Homo sapiens: one gene and its partner. The protein of the gene in region 1 purifies or fractionates together with the protein of each later gene. This does not show direct contact. Each region holds a gene or a part of one and is shown on either strand. Other genes may lie near its edges.

Evidence for each region. The genes of interacting proteins can lie anywhere in the genome.
Region 2: the proteins of ACAT1 (region 1) and ERCC2 fractionate together in Homo sapiens (co-fractionation; one large-scale study listed by BioGRID). This does not show direct contact.

The regions. Positions count from the first base shown.
Region 1 is NC_000011.10:108,138,544-108,142,190, forward strand, and holds part of ACAT1 (acetyl-CoA acetyltransferase, mitochondrial isoform b precursor), read left to right. Parts: intron 1-354; coding exon 355-498; intron 499-1,521; coding exon 1,522-1,672; intron 1,673-3,061; coding exon 3,062-3,157; intron 3,158-3,647. UniProt on the Homo sapiens protein: This is one of the enzymes that catalyzes the last step of the mitochondrial beta-oxidation pathway, an aerobic process breaking down fatty acids into acetyl-CoA.
Region 2 is NC_000019.10:45,360,427-45,364,073, reverse strand, and holds part of ERCC2 (general transcription and DNA repair factor IIH helicase subunit XPD), read left to right. Parts: coding exon 1-88; intron 89-162; coding exon 163-331; intron 332-2,431; coding exon 2,432-2,550; intron 2,551-3,647. UniProt on the Homo sapiens protein: ATP-dependent 5'-3' DNA helicase. Component of the general transcription and DNA repair factor IIH (TFIIH) core complex, not absolutely essential for minimal transcription in vitro.

The sequences.
Region 1 (3,647 bases):
CCACCACCACACCCAGCTAATTTTTGTATTTTTAGTAGAGACGGGGTTTCACCATGTTGGCCAGGCGGATCCAGAACTCCTGACCTCAAGTGATCCACCTGCCTCAGCCTTCTAAAGTGCTGGGATTACAGGTGTGAGCCACTGCACCCAGCCAACTTATTTCTCATTATATTATTTAACACCATTTCTTTTCATCAGGGTGAAGTGGTAAAGAGGGTACTTCCTGTATTCACTGTGTAACAAATGTTTAATAAATGCATGTAGAATACTTGTTTGGTGGTAGCTGTATAAAGGGTGTCATGGGTTTGCAAAATATTTGTATTAACATTGGGTTTTTCTGGTGTTTCTGCGCAGGATGTGATGGTGGCAGGTGGGATGGAGAGCATGTCCAATGTTCCATATGTAATGAACAGAGGATCAACACCATATGGTGGGGTAAAGCTTGAAGATTTGATTGTAAAAGACGGGCTAACTGATGTCTACAATAAAATTCATATGGTAAATGTGATTTTTAGTGGATAAATGCTATCTAATGTCCAATACTGTTTGATTTTTCTTACTCTATGTACTTTACAAACTGAACTGAAAGATGGGCTCTATAAATGTTGATTTTAGCCGTGTACTTTTGGAGAATATTTTTGTATGCCTATTGCATCGGCATGGCTCAGTCATTAAAGAAATTTTCCCACATTTAAATAGGGTAATTTCTGACGCTTAGCTGGCAACTGCTTGGCTAATTCAAGTATGTGAAGATAAGACATGAGTGGCTGGGTGCGGTGGCTCTGGCCTGTAATCCCAGCACTTTGGGAGGCCGAGGCAGGTGGATCACCTGGGGTCAGGAGTTTGAGACCGGCTTGGCCAATGTGGTGAGACCCTGTCTCTATTAAAAATACAAAAAAATTAGCCAGGCGTGGTGGTGGTGTCTGTAATCCCAGCTACTCAGGAGGCTGAGGCAGGAGAATTGCTTGAACCCGGGAGGTGGAGGTTGCATTGAGCCAAGATTGCACCACTGCACTCCAGCCTGGGTGACAAGAGTCAAACTCCGTCTCAAAAAAAGACATGAGTGAAAAGTGACCTGGTATAGAAAGAAATATATATGTGTGTGTGTATATATATATGTTATTATTATTTTTTTGAAATGGTGTCTTGCTCTGTTGCCCAGGCTGGAGTGCAGTGGCACAGTCTTAGCTCACTGCAGCCTCCGCCTCCTGGGCTCAAGCAATTCTCCTGCCTCAGGCTCCCGAGTAGCTGGGACTACAGGCACGTGCCCCCATGCCCGGCTAATTTTTAGTAGAGACGGGGTTTCACCATGTTGGCCAGGATGGTCTTGATCTCCTGACCTCATGATCTGCCTGCCTTGGCCCCCCAAAGTGCTGGGATTACAGGCATGAGCCACCACCTCCGGCCTAAGAAATATATTTTAAGAAACGTTAACTATTAAACACTATAAGTTAGGCAAAGTTAATAGATATTTTCTAAATTATGCAAAGTTAACTTTAAAATATTTCAACTTTTTATCAGGGCAGCTGTGCTGAGAATACAGCAAAGAAGCTGAATATTGCACGAAATGAACAGGACGCTTATGCTATTAATTCTTATACCAGAAGTAAAGCAGCATGGGAAGCTGGGAAATTTGGAAATGAAGTTATTCCTGTCACAGTTACAGTAAAAGGTAGAGATAATGTTCCAAAAAGGATGAATAGACTTTTCATGTTGCTGAATGTTTTATGCTTAAGTTTTAAATTAGGACATTATCTTGGTTCATTTCAACTGCTTATGGTTAATAAAAAGTGAAGAGTTGCCAGTTCAGAGAGAATATAAATCTACCCAACTTAATGTCAGATTTCAATCCATTTATAAGATCCCTGAGTATTACTTTAAATTTGAGAAATTTATTAGAACTTTTTCCTGTGACAGTCAATACGGTATTTTAAATTGAAAAGGGATTTACTAGAAGGTTACCGGGAGTGCCTCCAAGAACTGAAGGATGAACAGTAGCAACCATTCAGCTCTGGGAACTTCAGGGATTGGAACTGGGTGTTCACTACTACTAAGACATGCTCTCTTGGCTTCTCACACCTGCAGGCTTTTGTGCTTTATTCTCTCAGCCTTTCTAAAGTTGCTGCCTCTACCTCTAGGGTCACATATATAGGGTTCTCAAAAAGGAGAGACTTTCTCACCAGTTCCAGCAGAATAAATCCACAATGAAGACTCATTAACTTGCTTTAGGTTACAATTCTATTCCAGGAATGATTACTGTGCTCTAGGTGACAGAATACTAGAGCTTATCTAGTGTAGGTCAGACAGCTGCCTCTGGGGTCAGGAGAGTGGGGTCTGTGATCATAGAAGGGAGTTGAGGAAGAAAAGGGGACATGGAGGTGTAGAAGATTTAAATTTTGTGGCTGGGTGCAGTGGCTCACACCTGTAATCCCAACACTTTGGGAGGCCGAGGTGGGAGGATTGCTTGAGCCCAGGAGTTTGAGACCAGCCTGGGCAACGAAGTGAGACTTGGCCTCCACACAAAAAAATTAAAAATTAGCTGGGTATAGCAGCACACGCCTGTAGTCCCAGCTACTAGGGAATCCAAGGCAGGAGGATCAATTGAGCCCAGGAGTCCGAGGCTGCAGTGAGCTAGGTTTGTAGCATTGCACTCTATTGGGAGACTGTGCAAGACCATTTCAAACAAACAAAATTAGCTGGCTGTGGTGGCTCCCACCTGTAGTCCCAGCTACTTGGGAGGCTGAGGTGGGAGGATCACATGGGCCTGGAGAGGATGAGGTAAACTGTGATCATGCCAGCCTAAGCAGGAGAGGGAAACCCTGCCTCAAAAAAAAAAAAAAAAAAAAAAAAAATTGTGAAGCTACTTTGTAAGTTTCTCTTTTTAAGATGGTAACATAATAGAGGTTATAGTTAACAGATTCTAGATGAGTGTTTACTTGGGATGGTTTAAGTGAAGCAGGGATACAAAGGGAGGCACAGACTACTAGGCATCTTGTACAACAGTTGCTTGCTGAATGACTACTTGTTTTGAGCGATTTTACTTAAAATATTTTTATTTTAGGTCAACCAGATGTAGTGGTGAAAGAAGATGAAGAATATAAACGTGTTGATTTTAGCAAAGTTCCAAAGCTGAAGACAGTTTTCCAGAAAGAAAATGGTTAGTGTTAAGAAATGAAGCATAAGAAAAAATTGAGCCAGTATACCATATCTAGTTCTTAGAATTGCCTAAGGATTTTGAAAAATTCTAGAAAACATCTAGATGTTATTTAACATTTTCAGTATATCAGGCTCATGTAAAATTGTTTTGGTAGTTTATACCTTCAATATATAAATCCCAGGGAAGATATGTATAACATGACTATAGAATTCAGTTTTTCATATGTAGCAGTCTATGATAGGGTCTTCATTGGCATTGAAAAAAACAGATTTATTGATATAATTTATATACCATAATAACATTCTTCTATTTAAAGTGGTTTGGTAGTTTTTAACATTCATTTATATTTATCTCCAGGTGATTCTAGATAAGAATAAATATCTGATTTGAAAAATATGTAGTGAGTACCTGCTATATATTGAATAAGGAAAGTTAGACCCTGGAGACAAAAATATTAACTGGTCCCTATGTTTCAAGAGTTGTAGACGAG
Region 2 (3,647 bases), on another chromosome or scaffold:
CTGGTGGAGGGGCTGCGGGAGGCCAGCGCCGCCCGGGAGACGGACGCCCACCTGGCCAACCCCGTGCTGCCCGACGAAGTGCTGCAGGGTGAGCCCCGACCCCCCGCTGCCCCCCAGTCCCTTTCCCGCCTCCCCGTCGCCGCTGATAGCGTCTCCTCGCAGAGGCAGTGCCTGGCTCCATCCGCACGGCCGAGCATTTCCTGGGCTTCCTGAGGCGGCTGCTGGAGTACGTGAAGTGGCGGCTGCGTGTGCAGCATGTGGTGCAGGAGAGCCCGCCCGCCTTCCTGAGCGGCCTGGCCCAGCGCGTGTGCATCCAGCGCAAGCCCCTCAGGTGCGGCCCCAGACAGCGCGCGGGGTGGGGGCCCGGCAGGTCCCGGTTATGCAGAGCCGTGTCCTCCACGCCTGTAGCCCCAGGTCACCACTGCAGCATCAGGAGTGAGTGAGCTGGGCGAGGCACGTGGGACCTTGTCTGGTCTGACCTGGGAGGTCCGGGAGCAAGGTTGGAGCTGATCCTGGGTCCGTGCGTCGGGCAGGGGCCTGGCAGGCAACACCTGGCTGGATTGGAGAATCTCCCCCACCCAAGAGAGAGTGGGAGCACCATTTACAGAGGGGCGGGCTGGGGGAGGAGCCAAGGAGGGTGGGAGGTGAGAGCTGGGAGCTAAGCCAGGCCACAGCGGCAGGGAGGGAGTGTGTTGAGAACCAACTGGTGGGGGCCTGGACAGGGGCTTCTGCTGGGAGCAGAAACCAGTACCAGGGCCTCGCAGGCTGGGAGCTGGAGGAGGTGTCCCCGGCCCATGTATCTTCCCACCGATGCCTCTAATCTTCCAAACCTGAGGGCAGGGGCGTCCCCATGGAGTAGTCTGGGCGCATTTTGGGGGAGTCAGTCTCTTGAGGCACAGGGCAGGCAGAGAATGACCAAGGGATACGAGGGGGCTTTTCCTTTGGGTAAGTCATGGGTCTTCTTTGAACTGCAGTTTCCTCCTTTGTAAAATGGCCAAGGAGTCGGGTCTTTACTTCACAGGGTTCTTTGGTGGGTTAATGAGAGAGCAGCGAAGCCAATCACCTACCCTGCCCTGAGCACTAAGGAGGAGCTAAGCCCTTTATGTTCCTTACCTCAGTTGCACCCCCAGTACAGCATCCCCACCCTGCAAATGAGGACACTGGGACTCCCAGAGGGGAAGCCTTTGCCCAGAGCCACACAGCACTGTGCCCGGTAGTTGGGGCTTGAAGCCATGCCTGTGGGCTCCAAAGGCCCTGGCTGCCCTGCCTCTGTGGGTGAGGCCACCTTCCATGTGGGTTTGCCCATCTTCCCCAGGATTGGAGACTTGTGAGGGCAAAGAGGGGATCTCAGTCACTCAACACACATTCCCCAAGTGCCTGCTTCATGCTGGGGACACAGCCGTAGAGGCTCCATGGCCCAGTGGAGGGGACAGACTCATCCTCAGCTAGCGACCAGCCGGGGTAGGCGCCTGGGGTTAGAGGAGCCAGGCTGGGAGGGCTGACGTGCGGGAGGCAGGTTTGCAAGTGTGACTGCCCACCTGGCTTCAAAGCCAGCTGCTCTATGACCCTGCCTCGGCCCTGCCTGTGTGTGGTTGTGGCCGAGTGGCCCTGCACATGCGTGAGTGTGTGGACGTGGTATCCGTGGGACTCTGTGGGATGTGGGTGTTGACTGCATTCCTCTGTGAGCCCATGGGGTTCCGACACCGTGTGTGTCCCCATAGGTGCGTGAGAGGCAGTGGGAGAGGCTCTGGGTGTGAATGCGTGACCATGTGGCCATGCGGGATTAATGCCATGACTGGGGGGTTCTGGGTGTGATTGTGCGTCTCTTGTTTTGATCAGAACCCACTTAGGGCCAGGTGCAGTGGCTCACACCTGTCATCCCAGCACTTTGGGAGGCTGAGGCAGGTGGATCACGAGGTCAGAAGTTCAAGACCAGCCTGGCCAACATAGTGAAAGTCCGTCTCTACTAAAAGTACAAAAATTAGCTGAGTGTGGTGGCAGGCACCTGTAATCCCAGCTACTTGGGAGGCTGAGGCAGGAGAATCATTTGAACCCAGGAGGCGGAGTCGAGATGGTACCAGTGCTCTCCAGCCTGGATGACAGGGCAAGACTCCATCTGAACAAAGAAAAAAAAGAAAAAGAAAAAAAGAACCCACTTAGGAGGTCGTGCTAGCAGGTGTGACAAGTGACCACATGACTCTGGAGTGTCTGATTATTGCTCTGTCTGTGCCATTATGCGGCAATGGCTATTTGTGACATGCAGGTGTACAGCGTGGGGGTGCAAGTTTCCAAAACAGGCCCAGTGCCCACCCTCACTGAGTGCTCATTGGCTGGGGAGACAGGCACGTGACCGTCGTGATGGCGGAGGCAGGGCTGCTGGTCCTGCTCATGCTTCCGTCTGCCCCCCGACCCCGTCTCTCCTCCCCGCCAGATTCTGTGCTGAACGCCTCCGGTCCCTGCTGCATACTCTGGAGATCACCGACCTTGCTGACTTCTCCCCGCTCACCCTCCTTGCTAACTTTGCCACCCTTGTCAGCACCTACGCCAAAGGTAAGCTCACCTTTTTCTGTCCCTGCTGGGCCTCCTAGCAGCTGGAATCAGGGTCCCAGCAGGGTCTAGAGGGTTGTTGGCAGGACACACAGGGCTTTGTGGGGTTTGGCTTGGAAGTGTGGGCCCTATTTTGAAGGCAGTGGGGAGCCATACATAGTTCTTGAGTAAGCCTTGTGCTCAGATTTACATTTTCACAGACTTCCTCGGGCTGCAGAGTGGAGAAGGATGGCATGGGCAGTGGTAAGGGAGGAGGCCAGAGAAATTCTATGGGGTCAGCTCACACTAGAGGGCACGGTAATGAGTTGATCTTTGTGCTCCTGAGGGCACTGGGGAGCCATGGCAGATTCTAGCAAGCAAGGTGCCAGGTCAGATTTGTGCTTTTTTTTTTTTTTTTGAGACGGAGTCTTGCTCTGTTGCCAGGCTGGAGTGCAGTGGTGTGATCTTGGCTCACTGCAGCCTCTGCCTCCTGGGTTCAAGCAATTCTCCTGCCTCAGCCTCCCGAGTATCTGGGACTACAGGCGCATGCCACTATACCCAGCTAATTTTTGTATTTTTAGTAGAGGTGGGGTTTCACCATGTTGGCCAGGACGGTCTCGATCTCCTGACCTCATGATCCACCGGCCTCGGCCTCCCAAAGTGCTGGGATTACAGGCGTGAGCCACCATGCCCGGCCCAGAGTTGTGCTTTGGAAAGATTTCTTCTGGGTGCTGAACGCAGTGGCTCATGCCTGTAATCCCAGCACTTTGGAATGGTTAGGCAGGCAGATGACCTGAGGTCAGGAGTTCGAGACTGGCCTGGTGAACATGGCGAAACCCCATCTTTACTAAAAATACAAAAATTAGCTGGGGCCAGACATGGTGGCTCACGCCCATAATCCCAGCAGTTTGGGGGGCCGAGGTGGGCAGATCACTTGAGGTCAGGAGTTTGAGACCAGCCTGACCAACATGGTGAAACCCTGTCTCTACTAAAAATACAACAATTTGCCAGGTGTGATGGTGGGCTCCTGTAATCCCAGCTACTTGAGAGGCTGAGGCAGGAGAATTGCTTGAGCCCAGGAGGCAGAGGTTACAGTGAGCCAAGATTGTGGCACTGCACTC